4 linked regions of the Homo sapiens genome follow. The protein of the gene in region 3 purifies or fractionates together with the protein of the main gene of each other region. This does not show direct contact. Each region holds a gene or a part of one and is shown on either strand. Other genes may lie near its edges. The genes, in order: VPS33A, NAA15, SREK1 and SRFBP1.

Region 1 (6,164 bases), on a different chromosome or scaffold from region 3:
CCAGCTAATTTTTGTGTTTTTGGTAGAGATGGGGTTTGGCCATGTTGGTCAGGCTGGTCTTGAACTCCTGGCCTGAAGTGATCCACCCACCTCGGCCCCCTACAGTGCTGAGATTACAGGTGTGAGCCACCGTGCCCAGCCACATGTCTAGTTTCTGAATCGTGCTCTGTGTATAAAAGCATGCCACTCAAGTAAATTAACATTTAATTTCTAAGTTGCAAATTTGCTAATTTCATTTTAGCTTCTGAAGACTTTTTTGATAAATTAACCGTGGAACAGGAGTTTATGTCTGGAATAGACACTGATAAGGTATGTGGACAAAAAAACCTCTTTAACAAGTAATTGAAAGCTTATTAAACCTCAGATTATAGCCAGAAAACCAATTGCTTTGATTCCCATGCCTTGCCTTTTTTTTTTTTTTTTTTTTTTTTTTTTTTGAGACGGAGTCTCACTGTGTGTCACCCAGCTTGCTCTGTTGCCCAGGCTGGAGTGCAGTGGCGCCATCTCTGCTCACTGCAAGCTCCGCCTCCCGGGTTGACGCCATTCTGCCTCAGCCTCCCGAGTAGCTGGGACTACAGGCGCTCACCACCACACCTGGCTAATTTTTTGTATTTTTAATAGAGACGGGGTTTCACCATGTTAGCCAGGATGGTCTCGATCTCCGACCTTGTGATCCGCCCACCTTGGCCTCCCAAACTGTTGGGATTACAGGCGTGAGTCACTGCGCCCGGCCACTTAAATATTTTTAAGAGCAAATGCAAAATGTGCAAGTGTAGATTTTATCAAGTAACAGATATTTAACATTATTCTGTGCAAGACACTTTCTGCCATACATGGCAACATGAGACCTGGCCCCTAAAATCAAATCTTTTTAAGACTGTATTAGATAAGGTATTTGCTCTTTTGAAAGAGTTTCTTATATAACTCCTTTAAATAGCTCTATTAACAAATTTTAAATTATTCACTTTATGAAAATTCCTAACATAAAACAATTACTGATACTTTTTGCTAGATTAGTTGTTGATACTATTGAAATGGAGTAGACATCTGGTAGCCTCTCAGAAGCGTGTCCTTAGAGACAGACGTGTCCAGACAGGCATATGGAGTGACCAATTGTATTCTCAGCGGCCTTGGGCTCCAGTGACTTGGCCTGATCACTGGGGGGTGTGTGTGTGTGTGTGTGTGTGTGTATGTATGTATGTGTGTGTGGGGTGTGTGTGTGTGTGTGGTGGCCAGGGTGTGTGTGTGGCTGGGGCTAGCAGAGCTATTTCGGGGAAGGGTTAGGGACTGTGGAAAAATAACTCATTTTCCCACGTATCTCCTTTATTGGACTTTGAAAAATAATAATAAACATCAAGTTAAGTTCCTAAACCATGTATTGTGTGTGTGTGTGTGTGTGTGTGTGTGTGTGTGTGTATGTATATGTAAATGTATATGTATATGTATGCTACTTTATTTCCAGGTCAACAATTACATTGAGGATTGTATCGCCCAAAAGCACTCGTTGATCAAGGTGTTAAGACTAGTTTGCCTCCAATCCGTGTGTAATAGTGGGCTCAAACAAAAAGTTTTGGATTATTACAAAAGAGAGATTCTCCAGGTGAGTATATTTTTAAATTATTAATTTGCCAAGGGGGACAGCATCTTTTTAAAAAATACTTCATGGGCCGGGCACAGTGGCTTACGCCTGTAATCCCAGCACTTTGGGAGGCCAAAGCAGGTGGATCACTTGAGGTTAGGAGTTTGAGACCAGCCTGGCCAACATGGTGAAACCCCCATCTCTATTAAAAATACAAAAATTAGCCAGGCATGGTAGCATGCACCTGTAGTCCCAGCTATTTGAGAGGATCAGGCAGGAGAATCGCTTGAACGCAGGAGGCGGAGGTTACAGTGTGTCAAGATCATGCCCCTGCACTCCAGCCTGGGCAACAGAGTGAGACTCTGTCTCAAAAAATAATAATAAAAAATTTAAAATTAAAAAAAATAAAAATTACAAAGCTGCCATTTTGGTATCTTGTAACGACTGTTGTATAAATTTTTTAACACCTAGAGGAATTGGTCTTGGTAGCCATCACTGTTTATTGTATTTGTGTGATAATAATAGCTAACAGGCTGGGCACAGTGGCTCACCTCTGTTATCTCAATATTTTGTGGGGCTGAGGCAGGAGGATCGCTGGAGGCCAAGACCAGCCTGGCAACATAGCAAGACCCTGTCTCTACAAAAAAAATACAAAAATTTACCAGGCATGGTGGCTGTGTCTGCAGTCCCAGCTACCCAGGAGGCTGAGTTAGGAGGATTGCTTGAGCCCAGGAGTCCAAAACCAGCCTAGGCAACATAGCTTGTTTACAAAAAGTAAAAAATAATAATAATAGGTAACATTTCTTGAGCATTTACTATGTGCTAGGATCTATTGGAAAAACTTTATAGGCCGGGCGCGGTGGCTCTGTACCCTGACTCTACTAAAAATACAAAAAATTAGCCGGGCGCGGTGGCGGGCGCCTGTAGTCCCAGCTACTCGGGAGGCTGAGGCAGGAGAATGGCGTGAACCCGGGAGGCGGAGCTTGCAGTGAGCCGAGATTGCGCCACTGCAGTCCGCAGTCCGGCCTGGGCGACAGAGCGAGACTCCGTCTCAAAAAAAAAAAAAAAAAAAAGAAAAACTTTATGTGCATTCATTTGTTTCATCTTCACAATACTTCCTTGTTAACTGTAGTTACCATAACAACAACAACAAATATTCACAACAGCCTTGTGAGTTAGAGACTGCTATCGTCCCAGTTTTATGGATGAAAAACTGAGGCACAGACTAGTTTAGGTAACTCACCCAAGGTTACCTGGCTGGTAAGTGGCACAGCCAGTGGTAAACCAGGCAATTTGAGTGTAGCGCCCATGTTCTTAACTCCGCAGTTATACCACGGAGGAAAAGAACTTTCTGCAAATTTCTGATGACAGTTGCTTAGCAGGTTTACTTAAATTAAGCCTGTGTTACTTATAATAAGGAAAAGGCCACTCTTGTTTTTGAAAAGTCTCCCCTTTGTTTGAAAATGACTCAGGTAGTATTTATTTGCTGTTACCAGTGACAGTTAAGTACATTTTTATTAAAATTGAGTGCTCATTAATTTTTTGTTTTTGTCTTTTTTTAAGTTATGTATCCTTGTGTAAGAGTCAAATAATGCAGAAGTACACAGAGCAAAATGTGAACGTCCCCTGTACCTTGCTCATACCCCAGTTTCCCTCCCCAGATGTGACCAGTGTCAGCAGTCTGATTTGCTTCCTTCCAAACTCCATTCTTTGCATTTAGACAGAATGTTTCCATACACAGACTTCAGAGCAAGACTGGCTGGATCCAGGTTTCAGCTCTGCTCTTCACTAGCTGTGTGACTTTAGGCAGGTTATTTAAACATCTCTGTAAAATGAAGGTAATGATACCTACGTCATGGGGTTAGAGCCGGGATGACTGAGTTAATGTATGTAAGTGCTTAGACCAGAACAGTGCCCAGCTCATAGAAAGTATTTTATAAGTGTTGGCTACTTTTTAAAATTTATTTATTTTTTGAGACAGTATCTCACCCTGTTGCCCAGAGTGGAGTGCAGTGGCACAATCTTGGCTCACTGTAACCTCCTGGGTTCAAGCGATTCTCCTGCCTCAGCCTCCCGAGTAGCTGGGATTACAGGTACATGCCACCAGGCCCAGCTAATTTTTTAATTTTTAGTAGAGACAGGGTTTCACCATGTTGGCCAGGCTGGTCTCAAACTCCTGACTTCAAGTGATTGGCCCGCCTCGGCCTCCCAAAGTACTGGGATTACAGGTGTGAGCCAGCATGCCCAGACCTTGGCTACTTTTTAAAAATAGAAATAATGTCCTACTCTACATGTTATTTTTTTTTTAATATATTCTGGAGACCTTTCTTATCAGGATGTATACATATGCCTTACTCTTTTTTAGAGCTAATTATATCCCTTATAAAAATATACTATCATTTATTTGATGCTTGCTTAGATTGGGTCCATAAATTCTGACTTTAAAGTAAAAATTTTAAATTTCTCTTTGAAACAGTGAGCTGAATTAATAGTAACAGGCAAGCAGTTTTAGGACAAGTTTCATCCCTCCACCCTGTCCTCTGTGCCCATCCACTAACATTGCTGGACTTTGGTAACATGTCCTGCAGTACAAACCAAATTGATTTGTTGGAAGTGCCCTTCTTTGAAAATTGCAGAAATCCTTTTCCTGATCTGACATCAAGGCCAAATGACTTCCCTTGCAGACATACGGCTATGAGCACATATTGACCTTACACAACCTGGAGAAGGCCGGCCTGCTGAAACCGCAGACGGGGGGCAGAAACAATTACCCAACTATACGGAAAACATTACGCCTCTGGATGGATGATGTTAATGAGCAAGTAAGCCACACTTCTCCACCTCGTCTCAGCTTAGGGACTGGTTAGATCGTCCAGGTGACAACACATGCTTCTGAACCTACACATCTGCCTTGCTTTCTGAAAACAATTTTCTAATGTTTTTGAAAAAGTAATGTATGCATGTATTGTATCCATCAGAATCCTAGAAGGACACAGAGAATGCTCTTAAACTGGGGAGTTTCTGGAGAGTTTAATAAAGATGTGGGCTGGGCGCGGTGGCTCACACCTATAATCCCAGCACTTTGGGAGGCCGAGGCGGGCAGATCACTTGAGCTCAGGAGTTTGAGAACAGCCTGACTAACATGGGAAACCCCATCTCTACTAAAAATACAAAAATTAGCCCAGCATTGTGGTGCGTGCCTGTAATCCCATCTACTTGGGGGGCTGAGGCAGGAGAATTGCTTGAACCTGGGAGGCGGAGGTTGTAGTGAGCTCAGATCATGCCATTGCACTCCAGCCTGGGCGACAGAGCAAGACTCTGTCTCAAAAAAAAAAAAAAAAAAGTTATGGGGCAGGCTCGGTGGCTCATTCTTGTAATCCCAGTATATTGGGAGGCTGAAGGGTCAGATCGCTTGAGTCCAGGAGTTCGAGACCAGCCTGGGCAACATGGCAAAACCTTGTCTCTACAAAAAAAATGGCCAGTGGTAGTATGAGCCTTTAGTCCGAGGGGCTGTGGTTAGAGGATCACTGAGCCCAGGAGGCGGTTGCAGTGAACCATGTTTGTGCCACTGCACTCCAGGCTGGGCTACACAGTAAGACTCTGTCTCAAATAAATAAAGATGTGGGAAGAGTGGAGAGGCAGTGCAGTGGGGAGCCCTTGCCAGCCACGGCCTGAAGGACAAGGAGAGGGGGGTGTTCTAGAAACTTGTCTTAGAACCTGGAGAGAAGAGCTGTGGTGAGGCCATCTGGTGAGGTAAGGGGTGAGGGGCCTCTGGCTGAGGGTATGGTCAACCTCCAGCAGAGGAAGCTGGCCAGTGACAACGTCATCCTCACACTGCTGCCCACTCTCCAGTTCACTCTGGTGCTTTGTCTTGGTCAGACCCAAAGAGAAGGCATTGGAGTGTGTTGGTGTGGGACGCACAGGTCCATCTCCGGGCACAGAGCATTGCGGAGAAGGGTGGAGAGTGTCTAGAGGAGTCAGTGGAGATGTCCAGCACTCATAAACAAGCCAGCCATGGCCAGGCGCGGTGGCTCACACCTGTAATTCCAGCACTTTGGGAGGCCAAGGCAGGAGGATCACTTGAGGTCAGGAGTTCAAGACCAGCCTGGCCAACATGGTGAAACCCTGTCTCTACTAAAAAATACAAAAGTGATCAGGGCATGGTGGAGCATGCATCTGTAGGCCCAGCTACTGTACTCAGAAGGCTGAGGTGGGAGCCTCCCAGGAGGCTGAGCCTGGGAGGTTGAGGCTACAGTGAGCTGAGATTGCACTGCTGCACTCCAGCATGGGCGACAGAATGAGACCCTATCTCAAAAAGAAAAAGAAAAAGGGAAAAAAAAAGCTATGCAAAAGCAGGGCCATCAGGGCCAAGTGAGTTTCCTTCCACAGTTTCCCCTCAGAGGCAGCCACTGTGGCCAGTTTTTTATCTATCCTTCCAGAAAGATTCTGTGCATATACATTTTTACATAAAGAGTGCATATTCTCTACTGTTGGTCTCCAAAGTGGGGTGCACTTTGCTTTACATTTATTACTTATTCTAATGTTTCTAAATTTCAGTCTTTTTTGGTTTTTCATAAGGAACTTT
Region 2 (6,164 bases), on a different chromosome or scaffold from region 3:
TCCAGTAAAGCAGAAGTATGTGAATTGAGAGTGACTAGAGGACTAGAAAGACAAGCAAAGGCTTAACTATTAAGACTGTCATAGATAGATGTCTTTCCATCATTTTTAATGATTGTATAGTGTTCTGCCAATGTTTTATTATGATTTATTTGAGTTCCTCTTGATGGACATAATTTTCTTTAAATATTTGGCAATGTTAAACTCTTTGAGGGTGGGATTTTTAGGAGATGAAGATGAGAGTCAGTTGTGTGGCTGTTGCAATATTTAAGAGAGGTAAAGTCCTGAAATACAGGATATTAGTGATAGAAATGGGAGGGAGTGGAAAGATAGGTAATGGGAGCTAGATTTTAATGGGTAGTGTTTCCTAGTTTATAAAACCATGATCCAAACGGCTGAGAGGATTTGATCCAGTTGCACTTTGTCATTTGTATTACGGAAATCAAGATTATTTTTCAAATAAAATTTGTAATATTTTGACTTGCTTTAAAAATGTGTAATATTAAATATGTGTTTTTAGTTCATGCATGCCATCCTAAACATTCTGGGGTTTTTTTTTGTTTGTTTGTGCTTTTTTTTAGATGGAGTTTTGATCTTGTCGCCCAGGCTGGAGTGCAATGGCACGATCTCAGCTCACTGCAACCTCTGCCTCCCTGCTTCAAGTGATTCTCCTGCCTCAGCCTCCCAAGTAGCTGGCATTACAGGTGCACAGCACCAAGCCTGGCTAATTTTTGTATTTTTAGTAGAGACAGGGTTTCATCATGTTGGCCAGGCTGGTGTCAAACTCCTGACCTCAAGCCATCCACCCATCTTGGCCTTCGAAAGTGCTGGGATTACAGGTGTGAGCCACCATGCCTGGCCAACATTCTGTATTTTATTGACTCTGTTGAGGACCTCTGGCCTAAAAGTTGTTAGATTGAAGGTTGTTGTTTGTTTGTTTTTGAGATGGAGTTTCACTCTGTCACCCAGGCTAGAGTGCAGTGGTGTGATCTTGGCTCACTGCAACCTCTACCTCCTGGGTTCAGGTAATACTCCTGTCTCAGCCTCCCGAGTAGCTGGGAATACAGGTGCATGCCACCATACCTGGGTGTTTTTTGTATTTTTAGTATAGACGAGATTTTGCAGTGTTGGCCAGGCTGGTCTCGAACTCGTGACTTGAAGTGATCCACCTACCACTGCCTCCCAAAGTGCTGGGATTACAGGTGTGAGCCACTGTACCTGGCCAGATTGAAGTTTGAGCTTGATCTCAGAAAGAAACGTTATAAGTTTCTGGAAAGGGAAGTGGACTTCCGTTTTTCTTTTGAGTGTGTTTTAAAAAGATTATTTTGGGCCAGCCACAGTGACTCATGCCCATAATCCCAGCACTTTGGGAGGCTGAGGCAGCGATCACTTGAGGCTAGGAGTTCAAGACTAGCCTGGGCATCATAGTGAGACCTCGTCTCTATGGAAAATAAAAAATTAACTGCATGTGGTGGTGGCATGTGCCTGTGGTCCTAGCTGCTCTGGAGGCTGGGGTAGAAGGATTGTTTGAGCCCAGGAGTTTGAGGCTACAGTGAGCTATGAGTGTGCCACTGCACTCCAGCCTAGGTGATAGAGCGAGACCATCTCTTTTAAAAAACGCAATAATTAGGAGGCGGGCGGATCACGAGATCAGGAGATCAAGACCATCCTGGCCAACATGGTGAAACCCTGTCTCTACTAAAAATACAAAAATTATAGCTGGGCGTGGTGGCAGACGCTTGTAATCCCAGCTACTTGGGAGGCTGAGGCAGGAGAGTTGCTTGAACCTGGGAGGCAGAGGTTGCAGTGAGCTGAGATCATGCCACTGCACTCTAGCCTGGTGACAGAGCGAGACTCCATCTCAAAAACAAACAAACAACAACAACAACAACAAAAAACAACAAAACCCAATTACTTTGGTAGGAGAATAAAAGAAGACAGACTGAAGATAGGTGGGTTGGGTAGCTGGTACAGTAATCAAGATCTAAAGTGAAAAAGGGCTGTATTTGGGAAGTGGAATATTCTCCTCCTTGATAGCAGTTTTTACAACCTACTTTAATTTTGCTTATTTATCTGTCCTTTACTAGACTTTAAGATCTTTTAATATAGGAGGCTATTTTGATGACCTACGTCTTAGTTATTAAGAAGTTTTAGGCTGGGTTTGGGAGCTTATGCCTGTAATCCCCGCACTTTGGGAGGCCAAGGCAGGTGTATTGCTTGGGCTCAGGAGTTTGAGACCATCTTGGGCAACATGGCGAGATCCCATCTCTACCAAAAATAGAAAAAAATAGCTGGCATGCTGGTGTGTGCCTGTAGTCGCAGCTACTCAGGAGGCTGAGGTGGGAGTATCACTTGAGTGCAGGGAGTGGAGGTTGCAGTGAGCAAAGACCACACCACGACACTCCAGACTGGGTGACAGAGCAATACCTGTCTCAAAAAAAGGGAAAGAAGTTTTAATAATTACGGTTAAATGAATGAATGTTTTTATTTTATATGTGGCTGAGTTTTAGAAACTTTGTATTACACTAAGGGTTGTCCTAAGAATCTTGTTAGTTCAAGAAAATAAAATCTTCATGACTTTACATAACTGGATTCCATGAAGACCCATTCCTTCTTTTTCCTTTTACTATTAATAATATAGTAACTGTTTACATATATATATATTGACTTTGTGCCAGCCAGTGAGCACTTTATATATGTTATCCCATTTAGTTGTCAGTAGTATGATTTGCTGCATAGACTATTTGTTTACATTTTAGTAATGAGGAAACTTAATGAGACTGATTTGTCCAAGGTTACAGAGCTGATAAGGTAGGCAAGACCTAATTTTCTCTGGCTGCAAAAGCTGTGCTCTTTTCCACTGTATTAAACTGCTTTATATCTTTGAAATCAATCTCCCCCTCCCCTTCCCCTTCTTTTTAAGCTTGTAGTTTTATAAATGGCTGTGGTTCTCCAAGTTTTTTGGGAGGTCGTTTGGAATAGTAATTTTTGACTTGTAGGTTGTACCCTTAACTAAATTCTTTAGGTTGGCACGTTTATGGCCTTCTTCAGAGGTCAGACAAGAAGTATGATGAAGCCATTAAGTGTTACAGAAATGCACTAAAATGGGATAAAGACAATCTTCAAATCTTAAGGGACCTTTCCTTACTACAGATTCAAATGCGAGATCTTGAGGGTTACAGGGTAAGTAAAATAGAGACTTTTTTTTTTAATTCTAAGGGGAAAATATGTACAACTTTGAGTACTTTCAGATACATAAATTTTTTATTTCATTTTGAAAATAATTTAATTGAATTTTTTTTTCCTCCTACCACAGTGGTTATGTTTATGATTGGAATAATCAGATCTTTAAAAATAAATTATTTTATGGTGAGGCAGATTTGGCCTACTGTGTAGGGTTGACTTAATTTGATAAAAATTAACATCAGGCCAGGTGCGGTGGCTCACGCCTGTAGTCCCAGCACTTTGGGAGGCCCAGGTGGGTGAATCATGAGGTCAGGAGATCGAGACCATCCTGCCTAACACAGTGAAACCCCATCTCTACTAAAAATACAAAAAATTAGCTAGGCGTGGTGGCAGGTGCCTGTAGTCTAGCTACTCAGGAGGCTGAGGCAGGAGAATGGCCTGAACCCGGGAGGTGGAGCTTGCAGTGAGCCAAGATCACGCCACTGCACTCCGGCCTGGGTAACAGAGCGAAACTCTGTCTCAAAAAAAAAAAAAAAAAAAAAAAAAAGAAAATCAGTACTCCTCAAATAAACAATGCCTTTGTCTAGTATTGACATGTAACTCTAACATTTACTTCCCACATTTTTCTGGAAAGCAAAACAAAAAAAAAATTTTTTTTTTCTTGGAGACATTAGAGTCTCACTCTGTTGCCCAGGCTGGAGTGCAGTGGCATGATCTTGGCTCACTGCAGCTTCCACCTCCTGGGTTCAAGCAGTTCTCATGCCTCAGCCTCCTGAGTAGCTGGGGCTACAGACATGTGCCACCATGCCCAGCTCATTTTTTATATTCTAATAGAGATGAGGTTTCACCATGTTGCTCAGGCTGGTCTTGAACTCCTGAGCTCAGGCAGTCCACCCCACCTTATTCTCCCAAAGTGCTAGGATTACGGGCATGAGCTGCTGCACCTGGCAAAAACAAATGTTTTGTTTCTTCTTTCTACCTCCACTGACTCTAATATATTTTTGTAGCTTCGATTTTAACCCTTAAATTAGTGTTAGATCTATTTAGTTCCTCTTTCATATTCTTTCCTCTTTATGTATGTTAACTCTGTAGTTGGACACTTAATTTTTAAAAACATTTTTGAATATTTTTCCTTTGTGCTGTTCTTTCCATCCTGCCTCTTTTCTGGGACTGAGCAGATCAAGAAATAAAGAAGGGTCTTAAGTTTGGTCTTAAGTTTTAAAAACTTAAATCTGGTCTTAAGTTTTAAAAAAATTCTAAGATTAGCTTGGAGGCTTCATTATGTTCTTAACAAATATTTCTTTGCCTCCATAAAGCTACACAATATGGATGTTTGAAGTATTTTCTATTATTGTTCCCATCATTGTGTTGTAAAATGCTTGGGGTTGTGGGATAAATTAATGTGTGTTTTTTTTTTTTTTTTTTGAGACGGCGTCTTGCTCTGTTGCCAGGCTGCAACCTCTGCCTCCCGGGTTCAAGTGATTCTCCCGCCTCAGCCTCCTGAGTAGCTGGGACCACAGGCGTGCACCACCATGCCCAGTTAATTTTTGTATTTTTGATAGAGACGGGGTTTCACCATGTTGGCCAGGATGGTCTCGATCTCTTGACCTCGTGATCCACCCGCCTTAGCCTCCCAAAGTGCTGGGATTACAGGCGTGAGCCACTGCGCCTGGCCTAATATGGAGATCTTTTAAAGGAGCACTTGCTGTTACTAAAAGCCTAAGAAAAAGTGTTTATTTTTTTCCTTTTAAAGGAAACGAGGTATCAGTTACTTCAGCTTCGACCTGCGCAGAGAGCATCATGGATTGGTTATGCTATTGCTTACCATTTATTAGAAGATTATGAAATGGCAGCAAAGATTTTAGAAGAATTTAGGAAAACACAACAGGTAATAACTAGAAGCCATTTTACTAAGTCTGATCCTAAGTATAACTAAAAAAATAATGTGCATAGTCTGGCTTACTTTTAATTTTGAAATAGTTTCAAACTTATAGAAAAGTTGCAGGAATAGCACAAAGAACTCTACATAGGGGTTCATTCATACTAAACTAATTGTTAATATTTGGTGCATTTACTTTAAAATTTGTGTATCTATTTATCTATTTTAATTTTCTTCCTTAAATGTTTGAGAGTAATTGCAAGACATCATGCTCCTTTACCCCTAAATGCTTTAGTGTGTATTTTCTAAAAATAACTGTATAGTTTTCAGTTCTCTAGATAGTATTATAGGGATAGATTATAAAAATTAGGAAATTTAACACTGATAGACTGTTATCTAATTAATCCCCAGCCCATATTCAGAATTTACTAATTGTCCTAGTTATAGCCTTTCTAGCAATTTGATTTCATTGCAGGATCCAATTAAGAATCATACCTTACATTTAGTTATCATTTCTCTTCAGCCTCTTTTAATCTGAAACAGTTTTGAAAACTTCCTTTGTATTTTATGACATAGACATTTCTGAAGAAGGCTGTGCTTTTGTAGGATGTCCCTCAATTTGGATTTTTCTGATGGTTCCTCATTCTTAGATAGAGTTTTATAATTTTGGCAGGAAACCATATAAATGATATTGGGTCCTTCTGCGTTCATTACATCAAGAGGCACATGCCATCAGTTCGTTCCATTTGATTACATGGTGAAAGTTGTATTTGCAGTTGTAAACGTATTTTTCTCTCTTTGTGTTTAATATGCAGTTTGAGACTGAATAGCCTATTGCTCATCAAACTTTCACCATCTAGTTTTAGCATTCATTGATTATGATTCTTGCCTGAATCAGTATTACTATGATAGTCGCAAAATGGTGATTCTCTTAACTCTAGTCATTCCTTGTAGGTTTATTATTTGGCATTCTACTCCTGAGTAAGAGCTTTCCCTTCTTCCCCATATTTATTGTGTGTAAGGACTTATGGATTATTATTTTATTCAACCTGTTATATCCTAATATTGTCATTATTTACTCAGTTGCTCTGTAGATACTTAA
Region 3 (6,164 bases):
AGACCATCCTGGCTAACACAGTGAAACCCCGTCTCCACTAAAAATACAAAAACTTCTCTGGGCGTGGTGGCGGGTGCCCGTAGTCCCAGCTGCTCGGGAGGCCGAGGCTGGAGAATGGCGTGAGCCTGGGAGGCGGAGCTTGCAGTGAGCGAAGATTGCGCCACTGCACTCCAGCCTGGGCGACAGAGGGAGAGTCTCAAAAAAAAAAAAAGGGTATATTACTATTACTGGTTCTTGGTTTTTGCTTAAAAAACTCTGGCCATATTTATTTTAAAAGAAGTGCCATTTTTCTTCAAAAGACAACATAGAACAAAATACAAAGCTTGCCTTAATTGGAAGTTGAATCTAGCTTTGTGGTGTTGGATAGGAATTGAACTAAGAAATGAACTATGTGATTGTAGTTAATTTATCTAGATTGTAAGAGTGGTTTCTGAAATTTTGAAGTGCAAAATTTTAGATTTGTAGTTTTTACATAACATTGCTATGCTGAAGACCTGCATTCTGATTCTTGGGGGGAAATGTTTTTTAATTGAACTTATGTGTTCAAGGAACAGAATGGTGGTCAGTATGGTTGAAGCATAGTGAGTGAGGGTCATGAGTGTTTGAGATTGGAGGGGATAGATAGGACACAGATTATGGTAGGGCTTTTTAGACCATGGAAAGAGGGGTTTGAGTTTTATTCTTAAGGTAATTAGAAACCATTGATGGGTTTTAAGCAGGGATATGACATGATTTGACATGTTTTAAAAAGATCAGACTGGCTGCTGTGATAAGTGACATTGATTTCATAAACTTCCGTTTTCACCATTAGCAAGTGCCATTACTTAACAGTTGTTAAAATCTTAGTTCTGTATCATATTTGTATATATAGTCATTAATGGTCAAAATGTTCTCTAATAGTATAAGTGGAAATGAAAAGAGTTGTGCTTTTTTCCTTGAAAGCTCTTTTCGTTCTGAAAAATTTTTTCTGTTTTCAAATTCTGAGATCTTACATTTCTTCTAGTTTACATTCATATTAAAAATAATACGTTCCTTAATGCTGAAAGTAAAAACTGAATTTAGTGATGCTATAGAAAGATCATTCAAAGTTTTTTTGAAGGTTTTTGCCCTTTTCCTACCATGGCATAAGTAAGGGCTCAATATTTTAGATATATTTTCTTAGGTAAACTTTCAGCATGATAATAATAACCCATTTCTTAGGGTTGATATGAGGATTAAGTTACTACCTCAGTTAAATTCGATGCTATGATAATTGTTGACTGTTAGGAACTCATACTCATACTCATCTGTGTTTTTCAATGACCAAGGTACAGTTGATTCTCATTCTTTGTGAATTCTGTATTTTTGAATTCACTTAGTAAGTAAAATTTTTTTGAAATCCCCACATCAACAGTTGGAGCACTTTTGTGGTCGTTCGTGGACATACACAGAGTGGTGAAAAATTGGGGTTTGTCTATTTGCACGGAGGTCGAAATCTTCTTGTTTTGGCACTCAGGCAGTAAACAAGCACGCAGTCTGTTTAGTGCTATGTTCTTTGAATTGTTGTGCTTTTTGTTGGTGATTTCACTGTTAAGATGGGCCCACAAGTGTAGTGCCAAACTGCTGTGTAGTGTTCCTAAGTACAGGGAGATTGTGAAGTGCCTCATGGAGAAAATATTAAATACATGTATTAGATAAGCTTCATTCAGGCCTGAATTGTAGCGCTGCTGGCTGTAAGTTCAGTGTTAATGAATCGACAATATATAACAGCTAAGGTGTCTTTAAACAGAAGAACATATAAAATAAGGTTAAATATTTTACTAGTTAATGTAAATGTGACCAGAGGCTTGTAGGAACTTCACCCTGTATTTTCCCTAGGAATAATGGTTCAATATTCAATAATTCATTGTTCACGGAAACTATAGAACATAGCTATGTCAGGTAATGAGAAACAGCCTGTCTTTTAGGGTCAAGTTTAAAAGTGGCTAAAATATCCAGACAGTAAAATATATTTCAAATTACATTTAAAACTAATGTGACCTTACTTTAATAACTCAGACATATATATGACTGAAAGTTCGGAGTCCCTAGTCTCCTTTCATTCTTGTTGAGTTAGTTCATTCTTTTCAAGATTAGAGAATGGTATCTTTGGATACTAATAGAAAATATGTGTTCTGTGTGTTTTTTTTCTTCTTTCGATAGCTTGGTGTTTCACTTAGCAGTTTGGGAGCTATACCAGCAGCAGCACTAGACCCCAACATTGCAACACTTGGAGAGATACCACAGCCACCACTTATGGGAAACGTGGATCCTTCCAAAATAGATGAAATTAGGAGAACGGTTTATGTTGGAAATCTGAATTCCCAGGTAACTAATTAAAGAAGAAACAAAGCAGCAGTAGCCCTTATTCTTTTTCTCTTCTTAAAAATCATATCAGTGGATACAGTAATATTTATCTGATTTTTTAAATGGATATATTTTATCAAAGTGTCACTTTGTTCCCTTAGACAACGACAGCTGATCAACTACTTGAATTTTTTAAACAAGTTGGAGAAGTGAAGTTTGTGCGGATGGCAGGTGATGAGACTCAGCCAACTCGGTTTGCTTTTGTGGAATTTGCAGACCAAAATTCTGTACCAAGGGCCCTTGCTTTTAATGGAGTTATGTTTGGAGACAGGCCACTGAAGTAAGAAATCCTAAACAAAGAAATTTTAATGATTTTGAAACATTTAAAGTATTTTTGATGTAATGAAGGCTTTTTTTTTCTTTTTAATAGTAATTGGCAATTTGTGGAAAGGAAGACTTTGTGTTAAGTATAAATGAAATACATGAGATACTTACCATTTTAGTCTTTAAATTCCTTTATTTAGAGACATTTATTTTCTCATTTTCTGTTTTCTAGGGTCTAATTCAGTGTTAACATTATTTATATACCCTGCATAACGGTTGTAGGTCTTTTTCCATAAACTTTAATAGTCAGGTTGGTTTTACATTATGACACTAGACTAATTGAGCAACTTAACAGGTGGGTTGAACTACAGTACTTCCAGTAACAACTGTGGTAAATTCAAAATCTACAGAAGGAAATTATAAGTGCCCAGAAATGTTTTAAACCAGAAATTTTGACTTTTGAGGTTTGCTTACATCCTTGTTTGTAAAACGTTGATAATGGCCTTCGAGATACTCCAGACCAGAAATTCTATTTCATGCAGATTGTTGAGGCATATATAGTTTTGCTTGAATTTCATAGATTGCTTTAGTTATACAATTTGATCAGGATTTTTCTGTTAAGGATAAGTTTTTAGTGGGTACTTGTCTTCCCAGTGTGGAAGGGGTAAAGCAAGACACATAATATCCATTCATGTGCATCAGAGAAGTCACTCTTACCTAGTAGAGGAAGAATTTTTTCAGATGCCTTGCACATTCAAAGCTATGTCTAACTCAGCCATGGTTCAGCGTTGGTTAAAATGGTGTACATAATATGATGATATACAGGTAGCTTACCCTTCTTCTAGAGTGTACAGGATATCAGTAAGATCTTTTGATTTGAAAATAGAAATGATTCATTTTCATATTGGTATCAACATTTTAATTTATTTTAATTCTAAGCTATGGAAAAGCACTTCATCTAGTCTGTTTGAATTAAGTTAGCTAGGGTTCAATTTTTCTTTTCTCCCTGCTTTTGGTTGTATTCGCAAGGAATGATAGGAAGTGGGGATGAGAGATTAATCATGGTTTTGAGGTTGCTTTTGGTTATTCTGTATATCATTCTTACGTGCTTCTGAGATGTCCTCACGTTTATAAATATGTGTATCATATAAATGTTTGTTTCATGTTTTATAAAATGTGGTGTGTATTTGTGATATGCTAATATTTTTAATTTAGAATAAATCACTCCAACAATGCAATAGTAAAACCCCCTGAGATGACACCTCAGGCTGCAGCTAAGGAGTTAGAAGAAGTAATGAAGCGAGTACGAGAAGCTCAGTCATTTATCTCAGCAGCTATTGAACCAGGTAAGTACATAACGTTGTTACATAGGTCATAGTTTAAAGATCATAGACTCTTAGAACTGGAAGGAATTTTAGAAATCATCTTGTTCAGTCACTTCATTTTACAAACAAGAAGACTGAAACTCAAGAAATAGTAAGTAGCATACTCATGTCAAAGAACAACTTAGCCCATATTTTATCTCTTTCTGTGATACTGAATTGAGGCACTTTAGTCTGAGCTAATCAGCTCTGTATTTTCATAGCAAAATCAGTGCTCACAAGTGATTTGCTGAAAGCAAAAATGTTATTGCAAGGCTAAAAAGAGTACATATATTTAAAACGTTACGACTCAGCAGGTTTACTTTTCCTCAACATTTTAATTTTAGAAGTAGAGAAGAGAGCCCGTGATTTAGAAAAAAATACAGATACTGTATTTTAGTAAGGTAAAAGAACATCTATTTAAACTTTTGTGTTGCTAATGAAAATAATTAAAAAACCCATTCTAAAAACATCTAGGTGGTTTACATTTGAGCAGATTTTCTAAATCAACACTTAGAATTTAAGCTTCAAATTCTAGCAGAATAAGTGGAGAAAGGACTTAAAATCACTGTCACAGGAATTACAGACATGTTGTAATCGTACGTTACGGCAGCAACAAAATATTACGAACAGCTGTTTATAATCATCTGGTTTATATGTACTGCTGCAGGGTGGCTGCACTCAACGAGTTTATGCAATGACTTTCTTGGATGTTTCTGAAGGAGGAGGATGTACAGAGAGTAGGCCCCTTGCACTATATGTGGTACATTCCACTTGTGCCTGATTATTAACTGGGATCTTTAATTGTTCTGAGCTTACACTGCAAAGTGATTTTTTCCTCCCAGAGTCTGGAAAGAGCAATGAAAGAAAAGGCGGTCGATCTCGTTCCCATACTCGCTCAAAATCCAGGTCTAGCTCAAAATCCCATTCTAGAAGGAAAAGATCACAATCAAAACACAGGTGAGAATTTCTGCTGTCATATTTAAATTTTATTTTAGTTTTGTATTTAAAATATTAAGATTTTATGAGTTTTCGTCAAAATATCAGAAGTTAGAAATTTTAGTAGTGTACACCTGAAGTGTGGTTACCTTTAAATATTGTTCTAATTGTAATACTGTAGTTGAGAATGAAATTTTGTCTAATGATACTTAATTTTTAAATATTTGAACTTATCTTTATTTTTAGAAGTTAGTTTTGTGTCTAAAGATACTCTATTCCAGATTTTTCTAAGAGTAAACTAGTCTTTATATAGAAGTGACAAAAGCTGTTTTCATTCTTCATATTGAGAAAAGGGAACATCCTTAGTGACCATGCTGAAAATAATTGCTCAAGTTGCAGCTTTTTTGTTTTGTTTTCCCAGTCTATTCCAAGTTTGGGGAGCACCACCCCAGATCTTTCACGCAATTCCCTATTTTCAGTACCACGTATCCAAAGGAACACTTTGAGTCCTTGGTATTGCTGGTGATAAGAGCCTCCTCTGCCCACTTTTGGACCTGAAACACAGGAGTAACTTGCAGTTTCAGCTTCAGTTTTAGTACTTTGCTTAAGCTCTGTTTATCTTATTTTTGATCATAGCTTTGTCCTTTTGATTTTCTTTATCTGTCATTTCTTTGTCTTTGGTATAAAGGGGACCTTAAAATGCAAATTTGGCAATACCATCCTAATTGGAAGTACCCTAAAGATCATTACTAAAGTTACAAATTTTGTTGTCTATTTTAAGGTACGGAGGGGGCTGTTTTTGAAATGTGAAAGTATGTATAGTGGATCCTAATTGCATGTTATGTGTACATACGTACTCCTATGTATGTCTTGAGAGAGCAGGGAGGGAAGAGTGTATCTGTGTATGTTGGGATTTTAAAGAAGGAGAAAGGATTTGGGGGAGGGAAAAGGAACCAGTTTGTTGTACATTGTTTTACCAGCAGGCTCAGTTTACTTTGTTTTTGTGTGTGTGTGTGTTGATCAAGGAGATTCAAAGAATGAGGAAAAATAGGATGTTCTTTCTTAGATTCTAGTAAACAAGTATACACCAGATATACTAGTGTATACTTGTCTATTCTTAGTTTGCAAAATCTCCTTTGGAATATGGTTTTACTGCGTTTATCCAAGGACTTACAGTAAGACACTTTCAGAACCAAGTGAAGGAGGTTGTTTCAC
Region 4 (3,500 bases), about 56 Mb from region 3:
AGCACAGCAAGGTGACTACAGTTAATATATTTCAAAATAGCCAAAAGAGAGGATTTAAAATGTTCCCATCACAAAGAAATGATAAATGTTTAAAGTGGTAGATATGGTAATTACTCTGATTTGATGATTCTACAATGTATGCATGTGTCAATATCACTTTGTACTCTATAAGTGTCTAAAATTATTGTCAAAATAAAACAGAAAACACATCTTAGAGTTTTATAACAATATTTATATATTTATAACATTTTATCAGCTGATAGCATTAACTGTTATTCAGAAACACAAATTGCATATAATTATAGAACCTAAAGCTGTAGTATACATAATTCTACATAACTACTCATTTTATATACCTACATACCCTGTAGACCCAAACTTTTATGTTCTCCTTTGACTCACTGCTGCTACATATGGCTGCAGAGCTCCAATTTGACAACTACAATGTGAGTGACTCTCCGGGGATTATGCAACACGGTGGCCCTTTTCGAATCAGTCTCATTTTATATAAACTTGATATTCTTCCACAAATAAGTGCTCCACAAAGATTGCAACATAAAAACACAGTTATAGAAGAAGACATTAGAAAAAAAAAATTAAAAAAATCTTCATTCATGAGATTCGTACATAATTATAGAATTGTAAATCTTTTTCTAGAGCCTTTCAGAAAAAAATGAAATTCACTGAAATGAGATTACTAAATCAGCGTTAGTCTGGGATATCTTCCAGGGCAGAGAAACAGCTTTGCTAAATAAAATTAATGATAAAATGACTCTTAACAAAATAGCATTTACCCCGGAGTCCACACTAGACATGCAAGTATTACCACTGCTCTTCTAAAACTTGTTATAACTAAGATGGGAAGATATAGCTAACTCTGGAAAGAAATACCCAGTTCAGCAAAGATTTTAGCAAGTTGTCAAAACAGGGATTTGGAAACAGCAGTAGATGTGTTTTTCAACAATTGTTTGAATACATTTTAATCAAAATCTGGTTAGGATTCCCAGAATTTCTTATGTCTGTTTTATATCTGTTCATATATTGAGAATTACCTTTGAAGTGGATTTTTAGAAACTATAAGAGGTAAACATGCTGAAAGAAGCAGTAAAAGGTAAAAAGCTGCTCCTGGAATATCTTCTTTTTTCCTATAACCTGAAGGGCAGTTTCTTGGGGAATACACTTCTCAGGATTAGTCATTTTTGTTGTCATTGTTTTTACATACCAACCTTCTGTAATTAATCCTGAGGATTAAAATATACTGCTTCTTCATTGGATACCAAATTGTTTCTACCAAGACAGAATCTCAAATTGTGTTACCAATCTGGAAGCACACTTACTGCTATAATCTGTTGCTTTAATTTGGCAACAGAAGTCTGTCATGGTAGTATTTTTATTTTAAATTTTTAAACATCACGGGCCTACTACACAGTTTTTTCTTTCTTCCTGATTTTTTAGTTCTGCCCCACCAAGGATTCTACTTGCATGTAATTTAGAGCAGGCATCACGCTTTTTCTGTAAAGGACCTGAAATGAATGCCTTTGTAAGACACACAGCTTCTGTCACAACTACTTCGCTTTACCATTGTGTCGTGAGTGCAGACATAGGCAATATATAAATGAATGACTTTGGCTTTGTTCCATAAAACTTTATTAAATAAAAGAAAGTTCCAGCGGCAGGCTGGAACAGCCCCCATGGGCCAGTTTGCCAATTCCTGGTTTTGAAAATCAAATACTTCTACAAGAATTTTTTTATAAAAGTGGCAGTACTCTATTATTCCTTTCCTGCTTCAATTGCAGTTAGTTCGCATAGAGTTTACCCCTACAGTAAGATGTTTATGTACTGTATTAGCTTTTTTATTTTAAGCACTAGCTATTAACTTTATGTTGTGGTAGGTAAAGATTTAGATCTCTTTTCTCCTTCAGGCTCTAAGTCATATATCCCCTCCATCCTCCTCATATACTTATCTCCTGATATCCCCCCTTCATCCTCCTTATATACTTGAATCAGATTAGGTGAACATTTATTGATTATGTTATTGTGACTGTGAGTCATGTACTGAGTTATTACTACTTTTCTGCATAATATTTCTGTTTTCTACAGTTTGTGATAGGTTTATTTTGTTAGTTTTCTGTCTTATCTGTAGTGTAACACCAAACTCTCCATCTGCTATTGATATGTCCTCTCCAGATATTCAGCACACCAAGTATCCCAAACCTAAGTCTCCTGTCACCATCATCCTGGGAAGTTCCTTCTGCCTAAGTCTTCTGTTTCTTGTCTCCTATGCCATTCTTATTATTTGTATCCTTCCTCATTTTAGGGGAGCCAGTAGCTTCTTGGACAGAAATGTACAAGGATGTAAATTTTTTTGAATAAACTGCATGTGTGGAAGTATTTTTCTTCTTCCCTAGGTTGGAAATTCTTTTCCTTCATAATTTTAGAAGCATTAGCTGCTCTATAGTTTGACTTCCAGAATTAAAGTCTGAAACCATTGTGATCTGTGCGTCTTTTCTTTTTAGTTTATTATTTGGTGACTTGTTTTATTATCTGAAATCTTGTAGGTCCCAATATACTAATGTGACTATTTTCATATATTGTTTTCAGTCTTCTTAGCCTGAAAAATCATGTTTTTCATTGGAGTTTCTATATTCTAGCTTTTAATACTCAAGCAAGCATGTTTGACCTATGCCTTCAGCAGCTCAGCTTGTCACTAAGTGACTCAGGATACTAGCAATAACCTTCCTTCCTAAATTATCTTTTTTCTATCTTTCCTCTATTGTATCAGGAAACTCAGCAGCAGGTTGAAGAAACAGGTTCACTTTGCGCTGTACTTAAATGAATGGTCCATGAGTAGACGACATTTCTTGGAAAAGGTTGAACAGAAGCTGTGTCTAATAGTCAGAATAGATGCGTATCAGTTTCCTAAGGCTGCCATAACAAAGTATCACAAATTGAGTGGTTTAAAACTATGTAAATTGGCCAGGCGCGGTGGCTCACACCTGTAATCCCAGCACTTTGGGAGGCCGAGGCAGGTGGATCACAAGGTCAGGAGTTCGACACCAGCCTGGCCAACGTGGTGAAACCCCATCTCTACTAAAAATACAAAAATCAGCTGAGCGTGGTGGCGGGTGCCTGTAGTCCCAGCTACTCGGGAGGCTGAGACAGGAGAATCGCTTGAACCCGGGAGGCGGAGGTTGCAGTAAGCCAAGATCACGCTACTGCAACTCCAGCCTGGGTGACAGAGTGAGACTCCCAACAACAACAACAAAAAAGTAAATTTATTTTCTCACAGTTGAGGAGGGTGAAAGCTTGAAATTAAGGTGTCAGTGAGGCCACACTTTCTCTGGAAGCTCCAGAGGGGAAACTTTCCTGTGTCTTTGAGCTACTGGTGGCTGATGCCAGGATAACTCCAATCTTTGCCCTTAGTGTTCACGTAGTCTTTACTGTGTCTCTCTGTGCCCCTATATCAAAATATTCTTCTCCTTATAAGGAAACCAGTCTTA

What was found.
Region 1: the proteins of SREK1 (region 3) and VPS33A fractionate together in Homo sapiens (co-fractionation; one large-scale study listed by BioGRID). This does not show direct contact.
Region 2: the proteins of SREK1 (region 3) and NAA15 fractionate together in Homo sapiens (co-fractionation; one large-scale study listed by BioGRID). This does not show direct contact.
Region 4: the proteins of SREK1 (region 3) and SRFBP1 purify together in Homo sapiens (co-immunoprecipitation; one large-scale study listed by IntAct). This does not show direct contact.

The regions. Positions count from the first base shown.
Region 1 is NC_000012.12:122,234,023-122,240,186, reverse strand, and holds part of VPS33A (vacuolar protein sorting-associated protein 33A), read left to right. Parts: intron 1-241; coding exon 242-309; intron 310-1,462; coding exon 1,463-1,600; intron 1,601-4,263; coding exon 4,264-4,401; intron 4,402-6,164.
Region 2 is NC_000004.12:139,337,890-139,344,053, forward strand, and holds part of NAA15 (N-alpha-acetyltransferase 15, NatA auxiliary subunit), read left to right. Parts: intron 1-3,022; coding exon 3,023-3,180; intron 3,181-4,936; coding exon 4,937-5,071; intron 5,072-6,164. UniProt on the Homo sapiens protein: Auxillary subunit of N-terminal acetyltransferase complexes which display alpha (N-terminal) acetyltransferase (NAT) activity. The NAT activity may be important for vascular, hematopoietic and neuronal growth and development.
Region 3 is NC_000005.10:66,159,928-66,166,091, forward strand, and holds part of SREK1 (splicing regulatory glutamine/lysine-rich protein 1), read left to right. Parts: intron 1-2,181; coding exon 2,182-2,346; intron 2,347-2,486; coding exon 2,487-2,665; intron 2,666-3,864; coding exon 3,865-3,995; intron 3,996-4,680; coding exon of another isoform or gene 4,681-4,730; exon of another isoform or gene 4,731-4,855; coding exon 4,856-4,970; intron 4,971-6,164. UniProt on the Homo sapiens protein: Participates in the regulation of alternative splicing by modulating the activity of other splice facors. Inhibits the splicing activity of SFRS1, SFRS2 and SFRS6. Augments the splicing activity of SFRS3.
Region 4 is NC_000005.10:122,013,975-122,017,474, forward strand, and holds part of SRFBP1 (serum response factor-binding protein 1), read left to right. Parts: intron 1-3,500. UniProt on the Homo sapiens protein: May be involved in regulating transcriptional activation of cardiac genes during the aging process. May play a role in biosynthesis and/or processing of SLC2A4 in adipose cells.